4 linked regions of the Homo sapiens genome follow. The protein of the gene in region 4 purifies or fractionates together with the protein of the main gene of each other region. This does not show direct contact. Each region holds a gene or a part of one and is shown on either strand. Other genes may lie near its edges. The genes, in order: METTL17, ZYG11B, MALSU1 and MCAT.

Region 1 (7,575 bases), on a different chromosome or scaffold from region 4:
TCACTTGAACCCAGGAGTGGAGGCTGCAGTGAGCCGAGATTGTGCCACTGCACTCCAGCCTGGGCGACAGAGTGAGACACCGTTTCAAAAAAGAAAAAAAAAAGGTAGACTCAAAATACTATTTGTAGGCAAAAACAACTTTGATTGATAATTCCTTTTCTTTTTAATTTTTCTACACATGCGCCTTTTTTTACTTGACATTTCTTTTAAGTTCTGGCCCCAATCCATATACCTTCTTCTGCCTTGCCTAATCTGATGGAAGAAACATTATAGATTCCCAACTTGCCTATTCTCCCTCTGGTTTTCCAGTCTGTTAATTTTGGAGTGGTGTAAGTATGGCTTTCTAGAGCTAAAATTGACCAAGATAGGGCTGAAGAAAGTTACTCACCAGGTGACAGAACCAGTACCTGAGCCAAAGTCCATCAAAGTTTGTGGCTGAAATGCTGGATTTCGAGCCCGGATCTGAAGAAATATACAACATCCCACAGTAGGGTAATTAGATACTTATTTAGGACCTTGATAAATGTGAATTAGGAGGCTATCACAGAGGATGTGAGATGTGAATGCCTTTTGAGATTCAATACAAATACCTTATGGGATAAGAATCTCCTAAAATAGTGATTCTAAACCTTTCTTGGGTCACAGAAAGCTTTCACAGGATAAAGAGAACGTCTTTATTTTGTGTTTTTTTTAAGAGATGAGGTCTCACTCTGTCACCAGGCTGGAGTACAGTGGAGATCACAGCTCACTGCAGCCTCAAACTGGCTCAAGCAATCCTCCTGCCTCAGCCTCCCAAACAGTTGGGACTGCAGGCAGGAGCCCACTATGTCCAGCGGAGATCCTCTTTAAAAAAAAAATGCATATGCAATGTCCCAAGAATCCCCATCCTAGAAAACTACTTTATGAATAGGGAACTGATGGTCAAAAAGTTCAGGTTGGAAGTTAAGGGACTTTCACCTCATGGAATGCTCTGGAGACTGCTGCAAAGCCACCATCCAGTCTTGCTGCCATATACACCAGGCTCAGTCCCTCAGTGTAGCTGCCATTAAAATCACAGAGTTGTACATACTAGTAAATAACCTTAATCCCATAATTACCTTCTAGATTTAGAAAATGACATCTTGGAAAGGGCTCTTCCAGCTCAGGCCTTTCACTCCCCAATACAAAAGGGTCCTGGGGAGACTTACAAACACTAAATTTTCAAACTTCAGTGTTCAAAACTTTGTACTTTAGCTTTTTCAAATACTAAATTGATCCTTTTAAGGTCAGGTGATATAAAAGAAAATACTAAATTGATTGTGTAATTGTACTCCCCCAACTCTCTTTCTAAAGTCTACCTTTGCTTTCTTGTGCACCTCTTCTGGGCCCCCTTACCTCAGTTCTTGCCAATGGTAGGTAGTTTTACGTAGTGCGTGTAGCACTGCTCCACGAAGTTTCTCCTCTGTCTGAGATAAGTCTGTGGTGAGAACAAGGACTGGAAGTCAGGACCTAGGGAGAACAGGGCTCAGATCCAATATCTGAATATACTGCCCACCCAGTCCTCCCCGACTCCACCTAAGAAAAGCCTTAAAGCTCAAGGGAGACGACAAACCTAGAGAAAAGTTTCAGGCAAGAATTAACGGTAACAACTACCACTAACAGATTGTATCAGATAGCATTTTATTTATAAGAATGGTTTATTCAGCTTAACCAATCCTGTCCCACAGGTTTGTTTTATATTAAAGGAAAGTGTGATACAAATTTAAAGGGTAAGCTGGGTGCGGTGGCTCACGCCTGTAAGCTCAGCACTTTGGGAGGCTGAGGCAGGCGGATCACGAGGTCAGGAGTTTGAGAACAGCCTGACCAACATGGTGAAAACCTTTCTCTACGAAAAATACAAAAATTAGCCAGGCGTGGTGGCGTGCACCTGTATTCCCAGCTACTTGGGAAGCTGAGGCAGGAGAATCACTTGAAACCGGGAGGCAGAGGTTGTGGTGAGCTGAGATCGCACCACTGCACTATAGCCTGGGCAACAGAGCAAGACTCTGTCTCAAAAAAAAAAAATTTTTTTTAAAGGGTAGGCCAAGGACATTATTTTTTGGATTTCTTCACTTCTCCAAAATTTAAGGTTTTGATGATCTCCACTATTCCTATGGAGAGGAAAGAAATCTGAAAATCTACGTCTCATGACTGTTCAGTTCAGTACTATTTAGCAAGTATCTACTGAACTACTGTGAGCCAGGTACTGTGAGGTGTGCAGGGAATGCAAGATGAATAAATGGTAGTGTCAAGGAGCTCACAATCATGAAACTAACTTGATGAATTATATTTACCCTCTTATCCCAGAAGAGGGTTTCAGTACTGGGCAGGGACCATCCAGGGACTTTATTTTACCTGAATAAAAACTTAGAAGGTCCTAATCCAGTGGACTTGCAGAAAAAAATAAATATCTAGATTTTAACAGTATATTGGTAGCCAGGCGCGGTGGTTCATGCCTGTAATCCTAGCACTTTGGGAGGCCAAGGTGGGCGGATCACCTGAGGTCAGAAGTTCGAGACTAGCCTGGCCACCATGATGAAACCCCGTCTCTACTAAAAATACAAGTAGCCGGGTGTGGTGGTGCACGCCTGTAATCCCAGCTACTGAAGAGGCTGAGGCAGGAAAATCACTTAAACCCGGGAGGCGGAGGTTGCAGTGAGCCGAGATCGAGCATTACACTTCAGCCTGGGTGACAGAGCAAGACTCTGTCTCAAAGCAAAAACAAAACAACAAAACAAACAAACAAACAAAAAACAGTATACTGGGACATTCTGACCTTTACCTAAGCAATCTCTAAAATAATCTACCTTCTTTTAGTAAGGCATCATTGTAACAACTGCTGCTCTGGTTAGAAAGTCAAATAAGAGACTTCAGTATCTGAGAGATTGTAGAATTATTTCTTACTCTTCATTTCTAACCGATATTTCAATCTCGCCCACTTTTTAATTATTCTTAAGTCCTACCTGGGTTTTCCAGGAATTTTTTCTCAAGATGCCTAGCCCGTCTTTGCAACTCCTCTGGCTCTACAGGCAAATGTCTGCTCCAGAGATAACTGGTCAGTGTTTGCACCTGATTCTCCATAGTGGGCCCAGCGCTCCCTATGGGCCAAAGACGAAAAGCGGAATCACTTGCATGTAGGTCCAGTCCCGTTTCTTCTCGCTTTCCCGCCGTTACTCACCAAGTAGCAATAACTGGGCACCGTTAGCCAGTGCCTGTGGCAGCCGCACGTGCGGCAGCTTTAGGATGCCAGGGTGCTGGCGATGAGGCCTCTTCTGCAGGAAACCGGACTTGTTATCTACCTGGGTCACTCCGGGTACTAAGGCGGCGAGCGCCTGCAGGCAGAGAAAGGTAGGTTGATTTCCTGGCAGAAAGGAAAGTTGCTGGCAATCGCTAGGGCGGGGGCTGCCAGGAGCGCTCCTCCTCTGCGCGGAGATGTCTCTGCAGATCCAGAGTCTCTCCGACAGCAGGGAATGTAGGCACTCACCCGGGCCTGGGGAGCCACTCCAAGGCCGGGGCACCATCTTCCTAATGTCAGTAGACACTTCAGTGCCGCCGCCATGGCTCCGGAGGCGAACCGGAAACGGAAATACAGGTGCCTGTGACCCTCAGTCCCAACGCCGCAAGGAGCAGCCTTCGCAGAACTTCTCCCGACAGTTTCAGCCAACGAGAAGAGCGAGTGTTTGCCAGCAGCCAATAAGCAATGGTTATATAAATAATCCTTGAGGCAGAAACCGTGTTTGGGCCGACTTGAAGGCTGCGTTGGGCCTGGTCACCGGCCCCAGAAATCAAGAGGGTGGGGTGGGGCGGGGCGGGACGGGACGGGGGCGGGATGGGGTTGGGTGTGAGCGCGCCAGCAAAGACTGTTTCTGGGAGTACTGACTTCCTGTGTTCTTTGCATTCCTCCGCGGAGAACTCTGAGTCTTGGGTTGTTTCCCTGTGTGAAAAAGGGAGACTGCAGTAACGGAAAGAAGAGAAAAATCAGATTTAAGCGACTGAAGAAAACAGAAATTAATAGTTAAATGATTATTGAATAGTTAATAGTTTGATAAATATTAAACCTAGTTAATAGGTTTATTTATTTTTTTACATTTGTTAATTTCTCTTCAAATGAGACCAGTCTTCTTAGTAAGCTAACATAACACTTACTGAGAACACCTATGTGCTAGGTACTTCAGGGAAAAGGACTGATCCCCACTTCACAGAAAACATGGTTCTGACGGGGACCCTCCTGTGTCTGCTGCTACGTCAGAGTGTTTCCCCCAGGCCCAGGACTTAGACAGTAGCCGTCTGATTACCTGAGGTGCAGAATCTCAGGTGGGTCCAGCCACTATTGTGACGTGATAATATAGCATAGGGGAATGGTCTCCAGAGTCTGCAAGCTCATCAACACCTTCATTCACTAGAGCATCAGAAGGATAAATGGCATATGCAAGGCGATATCTACTTTCGGGACCTGACAGTGGACAACTGCTACCTCAGTCTCCGAACACTTGAGCTCACCCAGTGTGTGATTTCTGTGGGCTCCTGGCCCCCTAATTTCCGTTACAGGTTTAGGATGTTCTCCCAGCACATCCACTTGACCTGTGTGTGGAACCAGCCAGTTCATCTGGAGGGCTAGACTCCTGAGTCATCAGGCTAGGGCCTGATGATCTCAGGCCCCAGCGCCCTAATTGGACTTTCCTTCTGTGGTTCTCTACCTTATTCGACTTCTTCCCCAAATCTGCAGACCTCACCGACTGCAGCCTGCCAGCTCTCTCAGGGCTCCTCATCTCGGGGTGAGGTGGGGTGAGGAGACATGGGTGGACAGGGGGAGAAGGGCCGCTCTGCCTCTTCCAGGCGGAACCGCCCTTCCTGTAGATGAATGCATGGCCCACTGACACATCCTAGGCTGACACTTGCCTCTTTTCCAGCTTTTCCTCAGTCCTCCTTTTACCTGGGAATCTTTCCTGGGTGCTCAAAAGGGTCACCACAGTGACCTCTACCCCTCCAGTGAGAATGCTCACGTTCAGAGTCGTGATTCTGTGTGTGCCCTGGGCTGAGGACTCTGCCCTAGAGATATCTGAGGAATGGAACCATTAAATTAAATTGATACCTGTTGATATCTCTCCAGACTATTAAGTCCACAACCCAGGCCGTCTCAAAGGTTCTTACTCCTGAAGCCATCCCTCATTTTTTGTGCGAGTCTTGCCCAAATGCCAGGGTGCTGGCGATGGGGCCTATTCTTGCCCAAATGCACAGATAATTCTGAAGATTGGGCCATACTAGATGTGTGTGTTGGAAGATCTGCCAAGATTCTACTGTCAGCTAGTCAGAGCTCTTGAGTAAATCCCTCAGCATCTTGTCCTTATAATTCTATTCATATAGCTGAGATCATGTCACGGCTCCAAAAGCCACCATCCAAATTATGGGCATTTTCTGTCCATAAAACTTTGTGAAATGATTCCTTGTAGGAAATTTATCCAAGGGAATCACCAGATCTCAAGTACCTTCATAGTAGTTCAACTCCAACGCATAAGCCACCGCGCCTATGTAGGGGCTCCACACAATGTTTGCACTCCACACAATGTTTGCGCTCCAGGATAAGAGAAGGAGAGAAGGGAGAAAGGGATGCAACTTTCACCTCAATGGGAGTGAATGAATGGCCTCTTCAAACATGACCTGTCTGGGATTCTGAGTCATTCTAGTTCCCCTGCAACAGTAGGAGCCATCTTGACTTTATCTCTGAATCTCAGTGTCTGTCTTATTCTGTGCTTGGGTTTTAGTAGGTTACCAGTGTTTGCAGAAGTGACCCTGCCTGATTTGCGGTGGACTGTGAAGCTAAGTGTCTACTCTTTTCCCTCCGTAGGCCACTGGGAGGACAGATGATGCTCAAGTTTCCCTTTTTCCTCTTGGTCTTATGTCACTTACTGCTTTCTTTTCTTTTTTTTCTAGCCTATTGTTTTCTTTTTAAGACAGGTGACATTCTGTCACCCAGGTTGGAGTGCAGTGGTGAGAACATGGCTCACTGCAGCCACACATCCTAGGTTCAAGCGATTCTCCTACGTCAGCCTCCTGAATAGCTGGGACGACAGGTGTATGCTACTGTGCCTGGCTAATTTTTTATTTTTTTCGAGAGATGGGGTCTTTCCACGTTGCCCAGGCTGGTCTTGACCTCCTGAGCTCAAGCGATCCTCTGGCCTTGGCCTCCCAAAGTGTTGGGATTACAGGCGTAAGCCACCGCGCCTGCCTTATTCTATTGTTTCCTTTCTCTCCCACCCTCCCACTTCTTTTCTTCCTCCCTTCTTTTATTCCTTTTTTTTCACAGCACAAGATATCTTCTAATGTAAATATTTGATTCTTTATGATAAATTAAAAAAAGACTGGGGTGCAAATCAGAATCAATCACATTTTTTTCTTACTCCTTGGGGGCTCATTTGACTCTTGAGTGGGAAAGAGGCAGATCCCAGGTGAAGCCTCAGTCTCTTGGCCTAAGGCAGGGAGAAGCATGAGTCAGATCAACATGATGATTCATCTGAGTCTCAACCATGAAGAAATTCACGGATTGTACAGGGTTTTCTGGTGCAGTCAGCTTTCTTGTGTTGTGACTTGGCTGATTAACTCATATTCAAGGCCAGAACTACTGTTGCTGTTGAGACTAATCCAATTACAAAGTATTCTGCTGCGGGGGAGGGATCTTCCAATTGGATCTGATCTCCTTTGGCAAAAATCTATGTTGAGGAAAGCAAGGAGGTTCTGGAGGGATTATAGATTTTGAAAACTCTGGCTCGGGCAGACCCAGCATGGCTTCCTACAGATATAGGATGGGGGATCACCACAGAGCAGTGTTAGTCTTGGCATGGGATGGCATGAAAGGATCGCTGATATCCTCAGAAGATGAATGGTGGTCACACAGGAGCTTCTTTGGAGGTGCATTGTGGACTCTTAACACATGGATAAAGTCTTAGAGGAAAATCCAAGGATTGGACACCCATTGGGGGTCTCGTATATCTCTCCTGAGGGACTGAGACCCTGAAATAGGGACCGGAATGGCCAGGGCAGTGAGAGAATGTAGAAGTCTTTCTATTCTCAGTTCATGTTTCTCAAGAAAATCTAAAAGTTATCCCATTAAAATGTTCTGGGTTGGGGGCCTCCATTGTTTAACAACTAGGTCAATGGTTTCCAGTTCAGACTCGGGAGAGGAATCCCAAGAAGGAAACTCTGGCTTATCATCTACTTCTCCAAGCCTTCTAGAAATACCATTTCTAATGTACTGTCCTGCAACAGGGACCAATTCAAGACAGAACTTTCCAGAAGGATCTGTTTGTGTTTTTGAGAACTACTGGGAATGGCCAGCACAGCCACCTGGCCTAGGAGACTTGCTATTATACAGAAAATGAAGAAAAAATGTGAGAAGAAAGGGATGAAGAAAGAGAAGATAAAGAGGAAAGAAAGATATATAATGGGGAAAGACATTTATCCATGATAGGGAGTTTATTTTTCGTTCTTGAGTTGGTGGAATTCTTTACTGACCATGTTAGATGTGCCACACTCTGTGTTAAGGGCTAAAGCTAGGAGAGG
Region 2 (7,712 bases), on a different chromosome or scaffold from region 4:
ACTTATTTGTAGATCACATTGCTGGTCACTTCAGCTGTCTGTCCTAAATCAGAAAGAAAGAAAAAATGCTTTGGGGCACAATCCTTGTATTTATGCATCTGTATTTTACTCCTTGAAAGAAGCCCTTGAGTTATCATTTAGAGCATGTTGATTCTTTATTTTATTTTATTTTATTTTATTTTTGAGATGGAGTCTTGCTCTGTTGCCAGACTGGAGTGCAATGGCACTATCTCGGCTCACTGCAACCTCCGCCTCCCAGGTTCAAGTGATTCTCCTGCCTCAGCCCCCTGAGTAGCTGGGATCACAGGCATGCACCACCATGCCTGGCTAATTTTTTTTTTTTTTTTGTATTTTTAGTAGAGATAGGGTTTCGCCATGTTGACCAGGCTGGTCTCAAACTCCTGACCTCAGGTGATCCACCTGCCTTGGCCTCCCAAAGTGCTGGGATTATAGGTGTAATTTACCACACCCAGCCAAGATTTTTTTAAAATAAGAAAAGAGCATGAGTTCTATAAATCGGTCCTAGGTCTGAGTCCTGGTTCCAACATTAATTTGCTCTTTGACCCTGGATAAGTTACTCTGCAAGTCTAAGATTCCTCATCTGTAAAGTGTTGATAATTATAACTCCCTCACAGGGATTACTGTGAATATTTAAATAAGACAATGAATGCAACATGAATCTTGCTTTCATGGAGCGTATAGTCCAGTGGGAGACACAATTAGGAAGTAAACATATAGAATTACAGCTTGTGCCAGGTTCTCTGAGGGAAAAAGAACACTGTTCTCTTAAGAAGAATAATAAAGGAAGGGAGATGTTTTAACTTGGATGATCAGAGAAAGCTTCTAAAGTGGTGATACTAGACTGAGACCTGAATGACAAGGAGGGAAGTCAGTAACATAAAGGCGGGCTCCTCGGCACTGCCCAGGAGTTCTGGAGTATTTCCCCAGTAAACTAGTGTTCCTAACAGTAGTTTCAGATGTTCTTTGCTCTTCTCAGACTTTCTACCATTTATCTTAGGAAGAAAATTGAAGCCATCAGATAAAATTCCCTTAACTCCATGTAAACCACTGCTTCCAATTTTTCTGAGTGATCTTTTTTTTTTTTTTAATAGAGATGGAGTCGCACTATGTTGGCCAGGTTGGTCTTGAACCCCTGGCCTCAAGGAGTCCTCCTGCCTTGGCCTCCCAAAGTGCTAGGATTATAGGCGTGAGCCACCACATCCAGCCTATCTTTTTTTTTAATTAAAAAAAATTATTTTTTGAGACAAGGTCTGATTCTGTTTCCCAGGCTGGAGTGTAGTGGCATGATCATAGCTCACTGCAGCCTTGAACTCCTGGACTCAAGCAGTCCTCCTGCCTCAGCCTCCTAAGTAGCTGAGATCACAGGTGCATGCCACCAACATCTGACTAATTTTTAAAAATTTGTAATGGAGATGATGTCTTTCTATGTTGTGCAGGCTGGTCTTGAACCCCTGGGCTCAAAGCAGTCCTCCCACCTCAGCCTCCCAATTACAGGAATGAGCCACCACACTCAGTTTTTTGTTTTTTGTTTTTTGTTTTTTCCCAGTCAGGGTCTTACTCTGTCACCCAAGCTAGAGTGCAATCATAGCTTACTATAATCTCAAACTCCTGGGCTCAAGCGACCCTTCGACCTCAGCCTCCCGACTAGCTAGCTAGGACTACAGGTATGTACCACCATGCCCGACTAATTAAAATTTTTTGTTGTTGGGATGGAGTCTTGCAATGTTGCCCAGGCTGGTCTCAAACTCCTGGCCTCGGGTAATCCTCTTGTCTCATCCTCCCAAAGTACTGGGATTATAAGCATGAGCCACTGTGCCTGCTCATTATTTCTTTAAGTACTTTTTCAGCCACACTGTCTTTCTCCTGTCCTTGAGATATTCCAGTGACACAAATATAGCTTTAGGTTTTTGGTTTTGGTTTTTTTCCCATTCTGTTCTTGTTATTTAAATTAGGTAATTTATGTTGTTTTATCTTCTAGTTCACCAGTCTTTTTTCTCTGTTCTCTATTTTACTGTTGACCTCAAGCATTATTATATTTTTCACTTCTAAAATTTTTATTTGATTCTTCTTTATATCTTCTCTTGCCTTGCTGAGTCTGTTTTCATTTTTTTCTTTTTTTCCTTATTAAATTTTTTTTAAATTTTTTTTTTTTTTTTGAGATGGAGAATCTTGCTGTGTCGCCCAGGCTGGAGTGCAGTGGTGCGATCTTGGCTCACTGCAACCCCTGTCTCCCAGGTTCAAGTGATTCTTCTGTCTCAACCTCCTGGGTAGCTGGGACTACAGGCGTGTGCCACCATGCCCAGCTAATTTTTGTATTTTTAGTAGAGATGGGGTTTCGTCATGTTGGTCAGGCTGGTCGCGAACTCCTGACCTCATGATCTGCCTGCCTTGGCCTCCCAAAGTGCCACCGCGCCTGGTCTGTTACTCATTTTTTTTCAAGCATATTTGTTTACTTTTGAAAATTTAATTGCATTTTTTTATGGCTCCTTTAAAATCGTTGTCAAATAATTTTAACATTTCTGTTACCTTACTGTTGGCATATATTGATTATCTCTTTTTGAGTTTGAAGTCTTACTGGTTCTTAGTATGATTCAGAGTAATTTTTTATTGAAACCAGGACATTTTAGGTGATATGAGACTTTTCTGTTTTAGTTTGAGTCACTGACGTCACTCCAGCAGTGGAAGGTAGGAGCACTGCCTTGTTACTGCCAGATTGGGGTTAATGTTCTTTGTAAAAATTTTTATAGGCCAGGCACAGTGGCTCACGCCTGTAATCCCAGCACTTTGGGAGGCCGAGGCGGGCGGATCACGAGGTCAGGAGATCAAGACCATCCTGGCTAACACGGTGAAACCCCGTCTCTACTAAAAATACAAAAAATTAGCTGGGCATGGCAGCGTGTGCCTGTAGTCCCAGCTACTCCAGAGGCTGAGGCGGGAGAATGGTGTGAACCCGGGAGGTAGAGCTTGCAGTGAGCCCAGATCGCGCCACTGCACTCCAGCCTGGGTGAAAAGCGAGACTCCGTCTCAAAAAAAAAAAAATTATTTTATTTTATTTATTTTATGTTATTTTATTTTATGTTATTTTTATTTTTTATGTTATTTTATGTTATATTATTTTGTTATGTTTTATGTTGTTATTTTATTTTATTTTGTTATTTTATGTTGTTTTGTTATTTTATTTTATGTTATGTTATTTTGTTACGTTATGTTATTTTATTTTATTTTGTTATTTTATGTTATTTTATTTTGTTATTTTATTTTATGTTGTTATTTTATGTTATTTTATTTTGTTATTTTATTTTATGTTATGTTGTTATTTTATTTTATGTTATGTTATATTTGAGGTGGAGTTTCGCTCTTGTTGCCCAAGCCGGAGTGCAATGGTGCGATCTCAACTCACTGCAACCTCCGTCGCCTGGGATCAAGCGATTCCCCTGCTTCAGCCTCCCAAGTAGCTGAGATTACAGGCAGGCACCATCAGGCCTGGCTAATTTTTTGTGTTTTAGTAGAGACGGGGTTTCACCATGTTGGCCAAGATGGTCTCGATCTCCTGACCTTGTGATCCATCCGCCTCGGCCTCCCAAAGTGCTGGGATTACAGGTGTGAGCCACTATGCCCAGCCAGATTAGGGTTAATGTTCTTTCTGGTTCCCCACTTGGCTTCTCTTGACACCCAAGGTGCAGGGCTATGCAGAGGTTGGAATTCTGACTCCCCACTAGGATTCTATTGATACTTCCCTAAATGAGAGGGGTATGGGTATGTCATTTCTGCTTCCCAGTTGGCTTCTACTGACACCATGTTGGGAGGAGGTGGCCTCATTACTGTTGGGCAGTTGTGAAAGTCCTGACTTTCCACTAGACTTCCTATGACAGCACCCCAGCAGGGAAGCAGGTAGAGAACTTCATCGCTGCTTGATGAGTGTTGAAGTTCAGGCTCCCCAGAAGGTATCTACTAACATCGTGGTGGGGGATAGTTCTTACTACCCAGCAGGAATGAAAGTCCTTGCTCTCTACTCAGACTTCTCTAACACCTCCCCTGTGGGCAGATTGGGGCAAGTAATTACAGCCTGGCAGGGGTAGAAATCTAGGCCCCTATTGGCATTTGCTGGCATGGGTGGAGCTGCAGTTTTTTCTGTCGTGTTTGGCTGAAGTAGAGCAGTTACTGTCTACTAGCTGTTTCCTGTCTTACTAGTTGCTGCTTTCCTGGTACGTTGGCTAGAGAGAGCAGATTTTGGGGGAGGTTTTTGTCTGTGCCCATTGGTGTTTCCAGGCTGCTGGCTCCTTCAACTTTAGATCTGGGATATATGACCAGAAAAAAACCAGGAACTTTTCTGCGTTGTTCCATGGGTCCCAAGGTCCCCCCTAGCTGATCTGCTTTCATCTCTTCACCTTTCAGAGTGATCTAGCTCCAGCTCACCTTCAGCCTCATTTCTTCTGTCCCATTTGCATGCTTATATCCCCAGAAATGCACTGCATCTATGGCTCTAGCTATTTCTTATGTTCAAGCAATATAGAAAGAACTACTTGCCATTTCCTAACCCCGTGATATGCTTTCACATCTTTAAGACTTTGCTTATGTTGTATATTCTTGCTTTAATATACCTAACCTTCTTCCTCTTTTTTTTTTTTTTTTGAAATGGAGTCTTGCTCTGACGCCCAGGCTGGAGTGCAGTGGCGCCATCTCGGCTCACTGCAGCCTCCGCCTCCCAAGTTCGAGTGATTCTCTGCCTCAACCTCCCAAGTAGCTGGTATTACAGGCGCGCACCACCACACCCATTTAATTTTTGCATTTTTAGTAGAAACGCGGTTTTGCCACGTTGGCCAGGCTGGTCTCGAATTCCTGGCCTCAGGTGATCCATCCGCCTCGGCCTCCCAAAATGCTGGCATTATAGGCATGAGCCACTGCACCTGGCCTACTAACCTCCTTTCTCTATCTTTGAATTCTTCCAGCATTTTCAAAGGCCTTACTCAAAGATCACCTCTCCCATCAAATCTTTTCCAGATCTTCATTCATGATGGTTTACTTCCTTTTCTTTGTTTTTGTGATACTTTATACTTGACATTGATATACCATATATCTCATTTTGTTATGGCTGTTTGTGTCTTTTTTACTCCATGGGATTATGAATCCTTTGACTATAGGGGCATATCTTATTTTTCTTTGTATCTACAACATTTAGAGTACTTGACATATAGTAATTGTTTAATAAACTGTTTGCTGAATGGACCCCATCATGAAATTTACTCTCCTGAAATAGAGTGCAGGTAATTTGAAAGGCTGTCTCTAGAACTACATTGTTTAATCGAAATGTAATTTTAAATTTACCGGTGGCCACATAAAAAAATAAAAAGAAAAACAAGTGCAACGAGTTTTAATAATTTTTATTTAACCCAATATATTAAAAAATGATCATTTCAACCTGTAGTATATATAAAAAATTGAGATACTTTACATTATTTTGTTGTATTAAGTCTTCACAATCTGGTGTATATTTTGTACTTTATAGCTGACCTCACTTTGTACCACCTGCTTTCCAAGTGCTCTCCAGCTGTGTGGAGCTAGTGACTATGTATTGGGCAGCACAGCTCTAAAATGTAATGGAGTTCTTAATATGTAATTAGTCATTTTTGTCCACTTTGGCAGGTTTTGCACAGGCCTTTCTTGATTTTAACTGTGTAACTGTAATTAAGTCTGCAAAACTCATTAGAGAATAGTGCTCCCTTTTAAAAACACCTCATTTCTAATTTAAGGGTGACTGGCTGGCAGCCTAGCTGCATTTTGAGTATGGGCCAGCTAAGATGCCGCCTTAGAGTTCCTCTCATGACTTCAGGCTATTTATTTACCTGTCCTCAACTGCTCATTCACCCCATACTATTCTTAGACTACCTGTTTTTGGCATGATTGTTACTTCTTTCACAGTCAATGTTGTTTAGTTGATATGTGATATGTTGATGTGCCTCCAGAGTATCATATGCTTGTGACACTGTTGATTGGTAGACAGGTAGATCTCGAAGGCACTTCAAGAGGTTACTGTGTCGACTTCATTTACATTCATCTGCAGGAGGGGGAGTGTGGGGGGAAGCTGTAACTACTATATATATATATATATATATTTTTTTTTTTTTTTCAGAGACAGGTTCTCACTCTGTCACCCAGGCTGGTGTGCAATGGTGCAATCATAATTCACTATAACCACAAACTCCTGGGCTCAAATGATCCTTCCATCTCAGCCTCCCTAGTAGCTAGGACTATAGGCATGACCACTGTGCCCAACTCGTTTTCAGTTATTTTGCAGAGATGGGGTCTTGCTATGTTTCCCAGGCCTAGATCGCTTTAATAAGGTTTGAGATCTGGCTAGTGGTTTATTAATGAATTACAAGGCATTAAGTGCATGCTAAATATATTATGTGTATATGTGTTTGTATAATAATATGTTAAGGTGAATTTAAAGGATAGGCTAGAAATGTATTGGTAACAAATCAAATACCTTAACACAAGGTTTATACCTCACTTGTGGTACATAAACTCTGCAAGTCCATAGAGGATTCTGCTTCATGGTCACCCTAGGGTCCAAACTGATGGAGGGTTTCTCCTCATATAACTATACTCTCTAGAACGTGAAGTCTCCTCGTTTGTCATAGCAGGAAAAGACAGCATGGAAAATCATGCACTGGCTCTCAGGTGCTTCAACATATAGTGCATTGGCCAGAACTAGGCACATGGCTCCAGCTAACTCCAGGGATGGGCTGGGAAATGTAGTTGTCTGGTAAGGTAAGAACTAGATGTTAGTGGATATCAATAATGTCTGCCACAGTCCTGATTCTGCCACTTGCTAGCCCTGTGATCTTGGAAAGCCACTCTCTGAGCCCCAGTTTACTCATCTACAAGTTGTAAACAATAATAATCTCACCTAAATGAATTGTGATTATCAGACGAGATACTGTTACATGGGAGCGCTTTGGAAATGTAAAGTGTGATGGAAATTTTGGCTATTCTTTAACTGTTTTTTGAATTTAAAACGCTGCTTGTTTTTCCACAGGTCTATTGAATGATGGAACTGTGGGTATTTTTAGGGGCAACCAGATGCGCTTAAAGCGAGCCTGCATTCGCAAAGCAAAGATCTCTGCTGTTGCTTTCCGGAAAGCTTTCTGCCACCACAAGTTAGTGGAACTTGATGCCACAGGTGTGAATGCTGATATCACGATTACAGACATTATCAGTGGGCTTGGCAGTAACAAATGGATCCAGCAGAATCTCCAGTGCCTGGTGCTGAATTCATTAACTCTCTCCCTCGAGGATCCTTACGAGCGCTGCTTCAGCCGGCTTTCTGGCCTTCGAGCTTTAAGCATCACGAATGTTCTCTTTTACAATGAAGACCTGGCTGAAGTTGCCTCATTGCCAAGATTAGAGAGCTTGGATATTTCTAACACCTCAATCACAGACATCACTGCTCTACTGGCCTGCAAAGACCGACTCAAGTCTCTAACCATGCACCACTTGAAATGTTTAAAAATGACAACTACCCAGATACTGGATGTAGTTCGGGAACTCAAACATCTGAATCATCTTGATATCTCAGATGATAAACAGTTTACATCAGACATAGCTCTTCGCTTACTAGAACAAAAAGACATCCTACCTAACCTTGTTTCTCTGGATGTTTCTGGGAGAAAGCACGTGACAGATAAAGC
Region 3 (7,712 bases), on a different chromosome or scaffold from region 4:
TGAAGTCTTCAGGTACTGTCTCAGGTGCTATCTGAGCTAACTGGTCATCATAAGAACGTAGGGTCCATAATTTCTCTAATTCATAGATTTCTCTGGTTTCTGGAAGCATCAAATGAATCACCATGCTGCCTGTCAGGGACAGATAAGAGATACAATGAAGGAATAGTTCATTTGCTTTTATTCTTACCTTACAACACACACTGGCTAACTCTAGGAATAAAGCAGTGGTTCTCAAGTGTGGTTCCCAGATTAGCATCACTGTGGACTCCATCCCAGCAAAAATACCACAGAAGTGATGCTATGCCTTTCTCAGTGTACCTACAGGAGGCATATGTCAATATATAACATTGCTGGTGATAGTAACTTTATCAAAGAGACTAATGGTGTCAGGATTCTCTTCGGTGACAATTCTCCATGGGTAACACACTTCTGCACATCTTTTGTGCAAAAACACTGACTGCCTTTTGTTTTGACTATCCAAGAATGTTTGTATCGTGAATATTCTTAACAGAAAGATACTGCCTCCCTCCAGGGCAAAGGGCAGCTTTGCTTACAGCAGCATTTCTCAATTAGGTAATAATGGTAATGTTTAGAGTCATTTTTGATTGTCACAATTGGAGAAGGGAGGATACTGCTAAACATCGTACCGTGCACAAGAGACACCCCTCCCCCACATGCAAAATTACCTGGTCCAAAACGTTAATAGCGACAAAAGTGAGAAACCATCAGAGCAAAAGTAGGCCTGCTTCCTGCCAGTTATAAAAAACCTAGACACCCTCATCTGAGTTCCAGTTTTACAACTGTGTGTGCTGGTGTCATCTGGCCCATGTTGCCCTATGGAATCCAGAGCTCAGGAAACCAGTGCAAAATGGATGCTGGCTACTGCTGTGAGTAATAAACTGTTCTTTGTCTCTAACCCTCTAATAGTCTTGTCTTTTACCAGTGTCCATGAAAACTGGCGGGACAATGTATTAGCTTACAAGCAGAATAAAATCTCAGACTCCTCAGTTCTTGACATACAGTTATGTTTCCCCTTTGTAAATATTATCTTGTTGGGAGGTGCTTTGAAACTATGTACACATTAATACCCAAAGTTGTTAGATCTTTTCAAAATTCTAGTCTTCTGCTCTTGTCCTTTTTTGTGCCTGGAATAACCTCATCCTCATCTCATTTATGCACCACAGCCCCCAAACCTTCCTCTACCACTACTAAGGAATCTCTCCCGCCTCTACTATGTTATCCTGTTGTCCACCACCTTCCTGATCTGTGTGGCTAGTAGATACACACCATGTAGTATATATCTTCCTCCAGGAGGGCATCATCTAGGGTACTTTGGTTTGGTTAGGTGAAAATTCTACATGTGAATAAGACCACCTGGATTATAACTAAAAAAACTTTTGTTACCTTAAACACACTTCAAAAATCTTACCTGGAAATACATTCATCAATTTGATCTCAATCCTTTTGCAACTGAAAACAATTCAAGATTAGCGTAGTACCAACAGTTACCTGTAAAATACGCCAGAATAACTTACCAAAATCCACGCACAGCCAGTCATCAGTGTCCTTCCCTTCTATCTTAACATGAGGGTCACGTTTACATTTCAGGTGTTTGTACTGCAAAAAGCCAGGTGGTTTATTAAAGGGAGAGGGGATGGGGGAAGCCTGTTCTTGCTGAAGGTCTTTTTTTTTTGTTTGTTTGTTTGTTTTTTTTAATCTTTCTTACTCATTTCTCATTGCTATACTTTGCCCTGTGATGAATAACTTAGGGAAACTATTTCTCCCTCTAAATCTTATTCACTTTCACCTCTCTCCTGAATTCTCCTGCCCCAGCCCTTCTGAGAGGGTCACCCCATTCATTCACCAAGGTGCCTCTGAGGCTGAAAAAGCTAAGCTCAGTCAGCATTTGGTACCCACCTACATCCATCACTTGTGTTCATCCCAGCTTTCCTTCACCTTTAGGGGCTGCAGATACTACCTTCTGTTTATAAAGCCAGGTTGTTTCAGTGCCACTGATTTCATCTCATCTGCCTTTATGACATGTTAATGGGACCCCGTCATCCTATAAATGTGCTCAGTTCTTTTGTTAAAACAGATATACTAATATCAAACAAGATGGCAATTAAGTAAAAACTGTTACAAGAGACAAAGGACATCTCATATACATCACCCCAAAATCAAAGGAAATGATAATTAGGGCAGGAAAAAGACAAAATCAATGAAACTAGGATTTGGTTCTTAGAATGACTAAGAAAAAAGACAACTAAAATCTGAAATGAAAGAAGTGACACTACTGATTTTAGAGAAATGGGATTGTAAGAGTATTATGAGCAACTGTACACCAAACAACTGGGTAACCTAGACGAAATAGCAAAATTTCTAGAAACACAATCTACTGACTGAATCATGCAGAAATATAAAGTTTCAATAGACCATAACTAGTATGGGGACTGGATCAGTAATCAAAAATCTCCCAACAAAAGTCCTAGACCAGATGGCTTCCCTGATGAGTTTTACCAAATATTTAAACAAGAATGCAATACTCAAATTCTCCCCAAAAAATTGAAGAACAGGGAACACTTCCTAACTCATTCCATAAGACCAATAACCCTGATGAACATTTGATGCAAAAATCCTCAACAAAAATACTAGCAAACCAAACTCAGCACCATATTAAAAGGATTATAGACCATGACCAAGTGGGATTTATCCCTGGAATGCAAGGTGGTTCAACATATAAAAACGGATCAATGCAATAACACCACATTAACAGAATGAAGAAAAAATCTATATGATAATCTGAACTGACGCAGAAAAAGCATTTAACAAAATTCAATACCCTTTCACAATAAAGCACTCAACAAAGTGGGCATAAAAGGAAATTACCTCAACATAATAAGGGCCATGTGAGAAAAGCACACAGCTAATATATTCAATGGTGAGACTGAAAGCTTTCCTGTAAGATCAGGAACAAGACTATGCCTGCTTTTGCTACTTCTATTCAACACAGTATTGGAAGTTCTAGTCAGAGCAATTCGTCAATAAAAAAAAAAAAGGTACCCAAATTGGAAAGGAGGAAGTAAAATTATCTCTGAAGACAATACAACTTCATATGTAGAAAACCCCAAAGATTCCACAAAAAAAACCCAGTTAGGGCTACTAAACAAATTCAGCACACAAAAATCCATCGTATTTCTATACACTAACAATGAGCAACCTGGAAACAAAGTTTTTAGAATTCCATTTACAATAGCAGAATAATACTTTTTTTTTTTTAATTGAGACGTTCTTGTTTTGAGTTTCGCTCTTGTTGCCCAGGCTGGACTATAATGGCGCAATCGCGGCTCACAGCAACCTCCACCTCCCAAGTTCAAGCGATTCTCCTGCCTCAGCCTCCCAAGTAGCCGGGATTACAGGCATGCGCCACCACGCCCGGCTAATTTTGTATTTTCAGTAGAGACGGGGTTTCTCCATGTTGGTGCGGCTGGTCTTGAACTCCCGATCTCAGGTGATCTGCCTGCCTCGGCCTCCCAAAGTGCTAGGATTACAGACATCAGCCACCGTGAGCAGCCTAGCAGAATAATCTTAACCACAGGAGCAAAAGACTTGTACAATGAAGACTACAAAACACTGCTGAAAGAACTTACAGATGCCAGTAAATGGAAAGATACTTCATATTCATGGATGGGAAGACAATATTGTAAAGATGCCAATACTACCCAATGCAGTCTACAGATTCAGTGCAATCTATATCAAGATCACAATATTTTTTGAAGAAACAGAAAAATCCAACCTAAACTTTATGTGGGGCCAGACACGGTGGCTCACACCTGTAATCCCAGCCCTTTGGGAGGCCAAGGCGGGTGCATCACCTGAGGTTAGGAGTTTAAGACCAGCCTAGCCAAAATGGTGAAACCTCATCTCTACTAAAAATACAAAAAATTAGCTGGGCATGGTGGCGGGCACCTGTAACCTCAGCTACTTGGGAGGCTGAGGCAGGAGAATTGCTTGAATCTGTGAGCCGAGATTGTGCCACTGTACTACAGCCTGGGCAACAAAAGCGAAACTCCATCTCAAAAAAAAAAAAAAAATTATATGGACTCTCAAGGAACCCCAAATAGCCAAAACAATCTTGTAAAAGAACAAAGTTGGAGTCTCATATTTCTTGATTTCAAAACTTAGAACAAAGCTATGGTAAACAAAACAGTCTGAAACTGGCAAAAAGACAGACGCACAGACTGATGAAACAGAATACAGAGCCCAGAAATAAACCCTTGTGCCTATGGTCAAATGATTTTCAACAATGGAGCCAAGACCATTCAATGCACAAAGGACAGTCCTTCCAACAAACGTTGCTGAGGAAATGTCCACATGGAAAACTAACCGCCTACAAAAACTAACTCAAAATGGGTTAAATATCTAAACAGGAGACTTAAAACTATAAAACTCTTAGAAGAAAATAGGGAAAACATGATACTGGTTTGGCAATTATTTATTAGATATAATACCAAAGACACAGGCAACAGAAGAAAAAATAAACTGAACTTCACCAAAATTAAATACTTTCGTGCATCAAAGGACACTCTAAAGAGTAAAAAGGCAACCCACAGAATGGCAGAAAACATCTGCAAATCACATATTTGATAAGGGATTAATATCCAGAATATATAGAGAGCTCCTACAACTCAACAACAAAACAACAAACAACCTGATTTTAAAATGGGCAAAGAGTCTGGGCAATATAGTGAGACCCTGTCTCTATAAAAAATAAATTAGCTGGGCACTGTGGAGTAACTCCTACCATTCTACTTTCTGTCTCTATGAATTTGACTACTCCTACTCCTCTAGTCCTAGCAACTTGGGAGGCTGAGGTGAGAGGATCACTCGAGCCCAGAAGTTCCAGGCTGCAGTGAGCTATGACCACACCACTGCACTGAAGCCTGGGCAACAAAGTGAGACACTGTCTCTTTAAAACAAACAAAAAAGCAAAGGACTTTTCTTCAAAGAATATATACAAATGGCCAATAAGCAAAAGAAAATATGCTCAACATCACTAATCCTTAGGGAAATACAAATAAAAACCACAATGAGATATCACGTCATGCCCATTAGGATGGCTATTACCAAAATGAGAAAATAAGTTGTTGATGAGGATGTGAAGACTGGAAACTCTGCACTGCTAGAGAAATGTAAAGTGGTGTAGCCACTATGAAAGAATACAGGAGCTCCTCAAAAAATTAAAAACATTCAGCTTTGTGCTAGGCTGGTGAACAGAAAAAAAATTAAAAACAGAATCACTATATGATCCAGCAATCCCATTTCTTTGCACATACCCCAAAGCATTAAAAGCAAGGACATAAACAATTTTTTTTTTTTTTGAGACTGAGTTTCGCTCTTGTTGCCCAGGCTGGAGAGCAGTGGCACAATCTCGGCTCACTGCAACCTCCACCTCCCAGGTTCAAGCGATTCTCGTGCCTCAGCCTCCCAAGTAGCTGGGATTACAGGAACCCTCCACCACACCCAGCTAATTATTGTATTTTTAATAGAGACAGGGTTTCACCATTTTGGCCAGGCTGGTCTTGAACTCCTAACCTCAGGTGAACTACCCGCCTTGGCCTCCCAAAGTGCTGGGATTACAAGTGTGAACCCAGCCTTTTTTTTTTTTTTTTTTCTTTTGAGACAGCGTCTTGCTCTGTCACCCAGGGTGGAGTGCAGTAGTACAATCTTGGCTCACTGCAGCCTCAAGCTCCTGGGCTCAAGCAATCCTCCACCTCAGCATTCCAAGTAGCTGGGACTACAGGCACACACCACCAAGCCCAGCCAATTTTTTATTTTATTTTTTGTCTTTTTTGTAGAGATGGAGTTTCACCATGTTGCCCAGGCTGGTTTCAAACTTCTGAGCTCAAGCAATCCGCCCACCTTGGCCTCTCAAAATGCTGGGATTACAGGCATGAGCCACTGCGCCCAGCCTCATGAACAGTATTTCTATACTCATATTTATACCAGCATTATTCACAATAGCCAAAAGGTGGAAGCAATCTAAGTGTCCATCAATGAATAAGGGGATAAACAAAATGTGGTATATACGTAAGATAGAGTATTATTCAGCCTTAAGAAAGAAGGAAATTCTGGCACATGCTACTACATGGATGAACCTTGAAGACATTATGCTAAGTCAGATAAGTCGGTCACAAATCTATGATTCTACTTTTATGAGATACTGAAAAGTAGTCAAATTCATAGAGACAGGCAGTAGAATGGTAGCTGCCTACGGAAGGAGAAATGGGGAGTTATTGTTTAATGAGTTCAGAGTTTCGTTTTTGCAAAATGAAAAAATTTCTGGAGACGGATGGTGGTAATGATTGTAAGTCAATGTGAAGGTACTTAAAGCTACTGAACAACACAGTTTAAAATTGTTAAATGGGCTGGGCACAGTGGCTCATGCCTGTAATCCCAGCACTTTGGGAGGCCGAGGTGGTCAGGAGTTTGAGACCAGCCTGACCAACATGGTGAAACCCCATCTCTACTAAAAATAGAAAAATCAGCCAAGCGTGGTGGTGGGTGCCTATAATCCCACCTACTCAGGAGGCTTAGGCCGGAGAATCACTTGAACTCGGGAGGCGGAGACTGCAGTGAGCTGAGATCGAGCCACTGCACTCCAGCCTGGGCGACAGAGCGAGACTCTTGTCTCCAAAAAAAAGATTAAACGGTAGGTTTTACGTTATATATATTTTACCACAAACAACAAAACTTTCTTGCCTTTGCATTTCTCTCATCTAAAATCTTTGTAAAGGCAATTTCTATTTCTTTATTCTTTCACAGAAACTTCTCTGTAAAACCTCCCATTCTTTTTACATCCGCAAGTCCAATGGTCACTAAGTCTTCTGACTCCATCCCACTATTACATCTGATAGAGACCCTGGTATGCTGTCTTTGTATATCTCTTCTTTATGCTTTCCTAGTTCTCTCCCTATCTCTCCAATTACCCTGTTTTTGGCATCTTCTTCTGCTCTGTCATGTACCAGGGTTTTGTGTATAGGCCCCACCTTTTTATTTTACAACCTTTCTCTATACAATTTTGGCTACTCTTTTGGTCTTAACTGCCTCCTCTATGACCAATTCTCAACAGACTAAGACTAAGAAAGGTATCATGGCCCCGTGGAATGGTACCAGAGTCAGCTAGAGGCTTCCAAGTACTTTCTTCCTCATTCTGATTCATATTCAGTGCAACTGGAAAACAATCCCCCTTTCTTTCCTCAACTAGACCTGTAAGGGCAAGGACTACATCTTTTTTGTTCTTACCTTCCCAATACCCCGTACAGTGCTTGGGAACACTGGACATGCTCAAATCTTTGAATGAAACTCCAGGCCAGCACTGTCCAATAGAACGTTTTACAATGATGAAAATGCTTTATGGCTGTCCCATATGGTAGCCATTAGCCACACGTGGCTATTGAGCATTTGAAATATAGCTAATATAACTGCAGAACTGAATTTATATCTTTTTTTTTTTTTTTGAGACAGAGTCTGGCTCTGTCACCAGGCTGGAGTGCAGTGGCACAATCTCAGCTCACTGCAACCTCCGCCTCCCAGGTTCAAGCCATTCTCCTGCCTCAGCCTCCCGAGTAGCTGGAATTACAGGCACACGCCACCATGCCCAGCTAATTTTTGTATTTTTAGTAAAGACGGCATTTCACCATGTTGGCCAGGAT
Region 4 (7,712 bases):
ATGGCTCCCAGCTGCCTGCCAGGGCCTACTTCGAAAGTTTGGGGGAACCCCCTGCCCTTTTTCCTTTCGTATATGGCATGCATCGTCTGCTCCCACTTCACTGGGGAGACCAGCTGCTGGGCCAGCAGCTTGTGGATGTGCCCGGGATGCCTGTATCTATGCGCGTGGACGTTGGAGTAGACAGAAACCAGAGGCTTCTTAATGTCGACTGCCTTTAAAGCTTGCGTCAGGGGCTCCACGGCTGGCTCCATGAGGCGGGTGTGGAATGCGCCACTAACCGGCAACATCCTGGTGCGTCTGAAATGAAACTTAGAGGAATTCTTCTGGAGAAACCGTAGAGCCTGGGGAAGGAAGGAGGTTTCAGCCGAGCAATGTCCCAGAAATCCGCCTTTACAGATCTGACCATTCACAGGGCCAAACTGGGAGGGTGACCACAAAGAGACCCACAGCTGCTAGATGTGGACATGTGACCTGTCTGTCCCAGCACCATCCCCAGGCAATTCACTTAACATCCTGGAATCTCTTCTGTCCCAGCCTTCAAATAAGCACAGTTCCATCTACTTCACAACGCTGCCAGGAAGAGCAAACCCTACAAGGCATGCAACAGTGTCTGGTAGAGGAAAACGCACTATCTAAGAAGTGTTAGTTCTCAATGAGAATTCTTTTTTTTTTTTTTTTGAGACGGTGTCTCGCTCTGTGGCCCAGGCTGGAGTGCAGTGGCACAATCTTGGCTCACTGCAAGCTCCGCCTCCCAGGTTCACACCATTCTCCTGCCTCAGCCTCCCAAGTAGCTGGGACTACAGGCGCCCGCCACCACGCCCGGCTAATTTTTTGTATTAGCTGATCTCCAGACCTCGTGATCCACCCTCTTCGGCCTCCCAAAGTGCTGGGATTACAGGCATGAGCCGCCGCACCCGGATCTCAATGAGAATTCTATCACTCCTTTCATAATTTTTGACCAGTCTGTTTGCTTTTTATTCCATAATCTTCAAAATAAAAATTCAGAACTAAAATTCAAGCCCCATTTCACAATGCAGGGTCTAGGATATTGTCACTTTCATCTGAGGTTTCTCTGGAGAAGGAAAGAGCTCTCCTCTTGATGCCAAAAACCTCCCCTGAAGGCATTTGAGCTCAGAAGGGGCCTCGGGCGAGCCAATAGCTCCAAAACCCTTGCAACAGTGAGCAAGCAACAGAACTTGCAAAGGTCTTTATTATTTTTTGAGATGAAGTCTTGTTCTGTCACCCAGGCTGGAGTGCAAAGGTGCGATCTTGGCTCACTGCAACCTCCACCTCGCAGGTTCAAGCAATGCTCCTGCCTCAGCCTCCCGAGTAGCTGGGACTATAAGCATGTACCACCACGCCTGGCTAAGTTTTAGTAGAGATGGGGTTTCACCATGTTGGTCAGGCTGGTCTTGAACTCCTGGCCTCAAGTCATCCACCTGCTTTAGTCTGTCAGTGTTCCCTAGAGACTGTTCCTGTTGCCTGAGTCCTGGGCTGAAAAGCAGAACCCAGCCTGGCGAGCACAGACCAGGAGTGGGACCGGTGCTTGTGTGCTGTGACCACTGAGGTGTGGGCTACTTGTCACTGCAACAAAACCTGGCCTGTACTGACTCACCCGTGCTTCCCCTCCACCATCACCCTCCATGTGGCTCCATCCCACTGAGGCTGGACCGCAGGAACCAGGAGCCTCTTTGGTCTGGGCCTTCCAGACTCTGGAGCCCAAGCCCCTCCCTCCACACCTAGATTGTCTGAGTGACTGGCAGGTATGGGGATGGCTACTCAGTAGCACTTCCTGGAGCATCTGTGGTCTCAAAGTGCTTTCCGTGTAAGATCTCTGGACTCTGGCTCAACAGCTGAGCCCTCTCAAGTCCCAGGCTAGGGCCACAGGGCTCAAGGTCACCATCACAGGGGCCAGCAGTCTCCTCTCCAATGGCCAGTCCTTGGCCCAGGCATTGGGCGAGCAGGGCCCAGGAGCCTTTTCACATCAGTTGTTGGAAAGGGGCTTCCCCCCTGAGGGGGTACCCCTGCCCTCACCTGAGCTCTTTGCTGTGGCACTACCAAGAATACCAAAGGGAAGCTGGGCACAGTGGCTCACACCTATAATCCCAGCACTTTGGGAGGCCGAGGTGGGCAGATCACCTGAGGTCAGGGGTTCAAGACCAGCCTGACCAACATGGTAAAACCCCGTCTCTAATAAAAATACAAAAAATTAGCTGGGTGTGGTGGCATGCACCTGTAGTCCCAGCTACTTGGGAGGCTAAGGCAGGAGAATCACTTGAACCCAGGAGGTGGAGGTTGCAGTGAGCCAAGATCGTGCCACTGCACTCCAGCCTGGATGACAGAGTAAGACATTGTCTCAAAAAACAAAAAAAAAAAAAAAAAAAATCAAAAGGATGAACCTAGGAGTTGTCACCTAGACTGGGTGCACCTGTCTGGGAGCCTACTGGGGAGACTCCTGCCCTGACTGGGAAGTCCTTCCTGAGCCACTTCTGGGCTTCCTTCCAAGGCTGGTAAAGGGAACGCCTAACTAGCTCCAAGACTGACCTGGGGCCACCATACCTGACCTGCCCACCATCTCAGAACAGTCATAAGAGGCTCCTGCCAGCTCTCACTACTTCAGAGGAGGCAGTTGAGGACGCCTGGCACACGGTGAGCCCTCAAAGGGGAAGGGGAGCCAAGCACGGTCAAGTGGCGGAAACAGACTCCAGAGTGAGACAGACTCAGGTTCCCATTCTGCCTCTACTATCCCCAAGCACTTGCCTCTCTCTGCCTCAGCATCCTTGTGTGGAAAATGTGATTAAGAATCCCTTCCTTTAGCTGGGTGTGGTGGCCTGTGTCTGTAGTCCCAGCTACTTGGGAGGCTGAGGTGGGGGGATCCCTTGAGCCCAGTAGTTCAAGACCAGCTTGGGCAACACGGTGAAACCCCGTCTCTACAAAAAAATACAAAAGTTAGCCAGGTGTGGTTGCCCGTGTCTGTAATCCAAGCCACTCAGGAGGCTAAGGTAGGAGGAACACTTGAGCCCAGGAGGTCCAGGCTGCAGTGAGCCGTGATGGTGCCACCATACTCCAGCCTAGGCAACACAGTGAGACCCTGTCTCAAACAAACAAACAAAAAAAGAATCCCTTCCTTCCATATAGCACAGGATGGGCTGTGAGGGACATGAAGTAAGACAGAAATGCCTGGCCCGGGCAGCAGCCCCTCACACGGGCTGCAATCTGCGCTCACTCAGCATTCCCTGAGCCAGGCACTCAGCACCCACTGCTCTTTCTGTAGGGGGCTCCTGCCGCTCTGCTCAGGGTGCCCCCTGCTGGCAAACACATGCCCGTCCTCCAGCTGCTGCCTCCTGGGTTGCTCTTAGGCCCATGAGTAGCCAGCCAGACCCTCACTGCACCCCTCGGCCTGGAGTCATCCATTCACGGGGCTCTTCCTTTGACGGCAGGAACCCTGGCTAATCAGTCTGTGCGTCCCCAGCCCTTGATAAATGTTTGGGGAAGTAGCAAATGGAAGGAAATACGGTGGAAAGGAAATGAACTCCAGGGCAAAAACAGACACCTAAAAAAAGCAGGGCAGGCAGAGCAATCTAGCAGAAAACAAATCTCTTTTCTCTAAGGAAGCAACCAGATCACAGGCTCCTCAGAAGCCCAGAATGTACTACGGGAAGGGCCCTGGAGATCAGCTGGCCCTGCCCCTTTACTTTAGACATGGGCTGGCTGGTTGGTTCCAGACCCCATTCTACACGTGGTGGAGCAGGGCAGCATTCTTGCTCCTGCCTGCTTTGCAGCACTCGGTCTACCTCACTGCCCTGGCCCCAAAATACTTCCTAAAGACCGGGCTGGACCCAGCACCCGCCAGACTGCTAGGCCTCACGGGTGTGGAGCAGTTCCAACCCTCCGTACTGGACTGGCCTATGAAGGCAGTTCCCATCAACACCCACCTCTTGGTGTCCTGAAATCACCCTGCAATCTGGAAAGAGGTAGTTGGACACTTCACATACGGGGTTCTCTATGCCTAAAGACTTGCAGTGTTCCCGGGCTTCCAAACAGGCGAAGTTGAACTTGGACTGAGGCTGGCCGAGGACAGACAGCATCCCACTGGGGACAGCTTCTGAAGCTTCCTGCATGGCCTCAGCTCGGATTTTCACTGCATACAAACCTGGCCAGAGAGAAGCGCATTTGGAAAAATGAGGGCACAGAATGAAGGAGAAAAGGCCAGGCCTGAGAAACAAAGCCCAAGCTCCACTCTGCACTAGAGACAGGGGCACTGGTGTCTGCCACCAGCCAGCAGGGCCACAGTTCCACACACCTCCATCGACTGCACAAGCGCTCACCACCAAAAGTATGCTGCTGTGCTTGGCACTATACAAACTAACCCAAGGAGCTTCCTGCTATAAAGCTGGTTTGGAGTAGGACAGTGGTGCTCAACAGGCCGGGGGCAGTGTCCGGAGACGTTTTCCGGTTGTTCTGACTAGGGGAGAGTGCCACTGACGTCTAGTGGGTAGAGTCCAGGGATGCTGCTCAACATGCTGCACTGCACAGGTCAGCCCCCCTTGCCCCCAACAAAACAAATGACCTGGCCCAATAGCGCCACTGTTTTTTTTTTTTTTTAAATAGTGCCACTATTGAGAAACCCTGGTAAAAGGTAAAGAGGAACAGGGTGGAAGCCACATTGCCTTAGCCAAGTCACAACCTCCTTGAGGTTCAAATTTTTAGTTAGTAAAATGAGGATAATAATATCTAATCTGCCTGGGCTGTTGTGAAAGCTGGGAATTATTATTAGTTAGTTTATTAAGAGAGATCAGGCCGGGCATGGTGGCTTATGCCTGTAATCCCAGCACTTTGGGAGGCTGAGGCAGGACGGCTTGAGCCCAAGGAGCTCGACACCAGCCTGAGCAACATAGGGAGACCCTGTCCCTGCAAAAAATAAAATACAAATTAGCCAGGCATGGTGGTGCCTGCCTGTAGTCCCAGATGCTTGGGAGGCTGACACGGAAGGATCACTTGTGACCAGCAGGTTGAGGCTGCAGCTGTAGTAAGCTATGATTGCTCCACTGCACACCAGCCTGGTGACAGAGCAAGACCCTGTCTCAAAACAAGAACAACAAAAAAGAACCATCAGAGACATGGGCTACTGTACTACATGAATTTCAGTGACATAATTGTCATAAGTCAAGTGTTACTGTCCCCACTTAGAGCTGGAGAACCTGACACAGCCAATGCAGATGAACGAAAACCTATGACTCCTGATTCAGTGTGGCTCAAGAGCATGGAGAGAGGGCAGGCAGTGCCAATGATAATAAGAGTGGCCTGAGGGCTGGTCGCTGTGGCTCGCACCTGTAGTTCCGGCACTTTGGGAGGCCAAGGCAGGCAGATCACTTGAGCTCAGGAGTTCGAGACCAGACTAGACAACATGGTAAAACCCTGTCACTACCAAAAATACAAAAATTAGCCGGGCGTGGCAGTGTGCGCCTGTGGTCCCAGCTACTTGGGAGGCTGAGGTGGGAGGATTGCTGGAGCCCAGGAAGTTGAGGCTACAGTGAGCTGTGTTCATGCCACTGTATTCCAGCCTGGGTGACAGAGCGAGACCCTGTCTCAAAAATCCCTACAAAGCCACACATAAGAATGGCCTGAAACTACCAGACCCCTGACACCCTGGTCCTGCTTCCTGGGCAGAGAGAAGAGATGACCAGACTGAGAAGAGATTAAGGGACCTGCACAGTGTTTCACAGGTCAACAGAGAGGTCTAAGGAGCAAATCCTGACATATCTTCATTCACTTAGCACTTCTATGTACTGGACTTTTAGCTCCCTTACACAAGAACAGGAGGACAAATACATAAACAGCCTGTGACATCAGGTACTTAGGAGGCTAAGGCAGGAGGACTGCTTGAGATCAGGAGTTAGAGGCTGCAGTGAGCTATGGTTGCATCACTGCACTCAAGGCTGGAAGACAGAGGAAAACTCTGTCTCTTAAAAAACAAATGAACAAGAGCCTGTGACAAGAAGTAGAAGAAAACATACAAGAAAAGGGAGGAGAGCACGCAGACATCCTCCCACAGAGACATTCAAAACTATGTAAAATGTCAAGGGAAAAAAGTAGGCCAGGCACAGTGGCTAATGCCTGTAAGTAATCCCAGCACTGTAGGAGGCTGAAGCTGGAGGATCACTTGAGTCAGGAGTTCCAGACCAGCCCTGGCAACATAGCGAGACCCCATCTCTACAAAAACTTCTAAAATTAGCTGGGCATGATGGTGTGAGCCTGTAGTCCCAGTTAGTCTGGAGACTGAAGCGGGAGGATCACTTGAGGCCAAGAGGCTGAGGCTGCAGTGAGCTACGACTGCACCACTGCACTGCAGCTGGGGTGACAGAGCAAGATACTGCCTCAAAAAAGAAAAAGAAAAAGAAAACACAAAAGTGTAACTATGCTATAATTCTGCACTTTTTTTTTTTTTTTTGACACAGAGTCTCATTCTCTAACCCAAGCTGGAGTGCAGTGGCACAATCTCGGCTCACTGCAACCTCTGCCTCCTGGTTCAAGTGATTCTTGTGCCTCAGCCTCCCAAGTAGCTAAGATTACAGGTGCACGCCACCACACCCAGATAATTTTTGAATTTTTAGTAGAGATGGGGTTTTACCACGTTGGTCAGGCTGGTCTCAAACTCCTGCCTTAGGTGATCCACCCACCTTGGCCTCCCAAAGTGCTGGGCTGGGATTACAGGCGTGAGCCACCACACCAAGCCTAATTCTGCACATTATGTACACATAAAATGATACATGTAATAAAATTGTTTCATAAAATGTGAAATTATGAAACTTTCCTTAATAATGTTATAACGCTTAAAAAAAAAGCACTGCAGTGAAATTCACATAAAATATAATTAACCACTTTAATGTGTATAATTCAGTGGTATTTGGGGTATTCATAATGTTGTACAACCACCAACTCTCTCTAGTTTCAAACACTCCATGTCCACTATGTAGGCACTCTCCATTTCTCCCTCTCCAGTCCCAATAACCTCTCGTGTTTCTATACTAGATTCTTTTTTGTTTGTTTTGGACAGGGTCTTGCTCTGTCACCCATGCCGCAGTGCAGTGGCACAATCGTGGCTCACTGCAGCCTCAGACTCAGGGGCTCAAGTGATCTTCCCTCAGCCTCCTGAGTAGCTGGAATTACAGATGCATGCCACTAAGTGCAGCTAATTTTGTGTATGTGTGTGTGTGTGACAGGGTGTCACTCTGTCACCCAGGCTGGAATGCAGTGGCACGATCACAGCTCACTGCAGCTTTGACCTCCTGGGTTCAGGTAATCCTCCCACCTCATCCTCCCAAGTACTCGAGCTGGGACTACAGGCGCACACCAACATGCCTGGCTAATTTTTGTATTTTCGGTAGAGATGGGGTTTTCACCATGTTGCCCAGGGTGGTCTAAAACTCCTGGGCTCAAACATCTATCTGCCTCTGCCTCCCAAAGTGCTGGCATTACAGGTGTGAATCACTGCACCCAACGTAATTTTTGTTTTTTGTTGGGGGCAGAGATGAAGGTCTCACTATGTGGCCCAAGATGGTCTGGAACTCCTGGCCTCAAGTGGTCCTCCTGCCTTGGCCTCCCAAAGCACTGGGATTACAGACGTAAGCCATGGTTCCTGGCCAGCAAAAATCTTAAGAAGTAAAACTGATATGGCTCCAGATCCAATATTTATTTACTCTTTAATTCAA

The links.
Region 1: the proteins of MCAT (region 4) and METTL17 purify together in Homo sapiens (affinity purification with mass spectrometry; 2 studies listed by BioGRID and IntAct, with this or other methods). This does not show direct contact.
Region 2: the proteins of MCAT (region 4) and ZYG11B purify together in Homo sapiens (affinity purification with mass spectrometry; 2 studies listed by BioGRID and IntAct, with this or other methods). This does not show direct contact.
Region 3: the proteins of MCAT (region 4) and MALSU1 purify together in Homo sapiens (affinity purification with mass spectrometry; 2 studies listed by BioGRID and IntAct, with this or other methods). This does not show direct contact.

What each region holds. Positions count from the first base shown.
Region 1 is NC_000014.9:20,986,005-20,993,579, reverse strand, and holds the start of METTL17 (ribosome assembly protein METTL17, mitochondrial isoform 2 precursor), read right to left. Parts: upstream 3,601-7,575; 5' UTR 3,578-3,600; coding exon 3,503-3,577; intron 3,351-3,502; coding exon 3,197-3,350; intron 3,117-3,196; coding exon 2,982-3,116; intron 1,457-2,981; coding exon 1,375-1,456; intron 1,040-1,374; coding exon 958-1,039; intron 463-957; coding exon 389-462; intron 1-388. UniProt on the Homo sapiens protein: Mitochondrial ribosome (mitoribosome) assembly factor. Binds at the interface of the head and body domains of the mitochondrial small ribosomal subunit (mt-SSU), occluding the mRNA channel and preventing compaction of the head domain towards the body.
Region 2 is NC_000001.11:52,763,960-52,771,671, forward strand, and holds part of ZYG11B (protein zyg-11 homolog B), read left to right. Parts: intron 1-7,060; coding exon 7,061-7,712. UniProt on the Homo sapiens protein: Serves as substrate adapter subunit in the E3 ubiquitin ligase complex ZYG11B-CUL2-Elongin BC. Acts to target substrates bearing N-terminal degrons for proteasomal degradation with the first four residues of substrates being the key recognition elements.
Region 3 is NC_000007.14:23,301,773-23,309,484, reverse strand, and holds part of MALSU1 (mitochondrial assembly of ribosomal large subunit protein 1), read right to left. Parts: intron 1,618-7,712; coding exon 1,536-1,617; intron 130-1,535; coding exon 1-129. UniProt on the Homo sapiens protein: Required for normal mitochondrial ribosome function and mitochondrial translation. May play a role in ribosome biogenesis by preventing premature association of the 28S and 39S ribosomal subunits.
Region 4 is NC_000022.11:43,133,146-43,140,857, forward strand, and holds part of MCAT (malonyl-CoA-acyl carrier protein transacylase, mitochondrial isoform a precursor), read right to left. Parts: intron 4,154-7,712; coding exon 3,936-4,153; intron 342-3,935; coding exon 1-341. UniProt on the Homo sapiens protein: Catalyzes the transfer of a malonyl moiety from malonyl-CoA to the free thiol group of the phosphopantetheine arm of the mitochondrial ACP protein (NDUFAB1). This suggests the existence of the biosynthesis of fatty acids in mitochondria.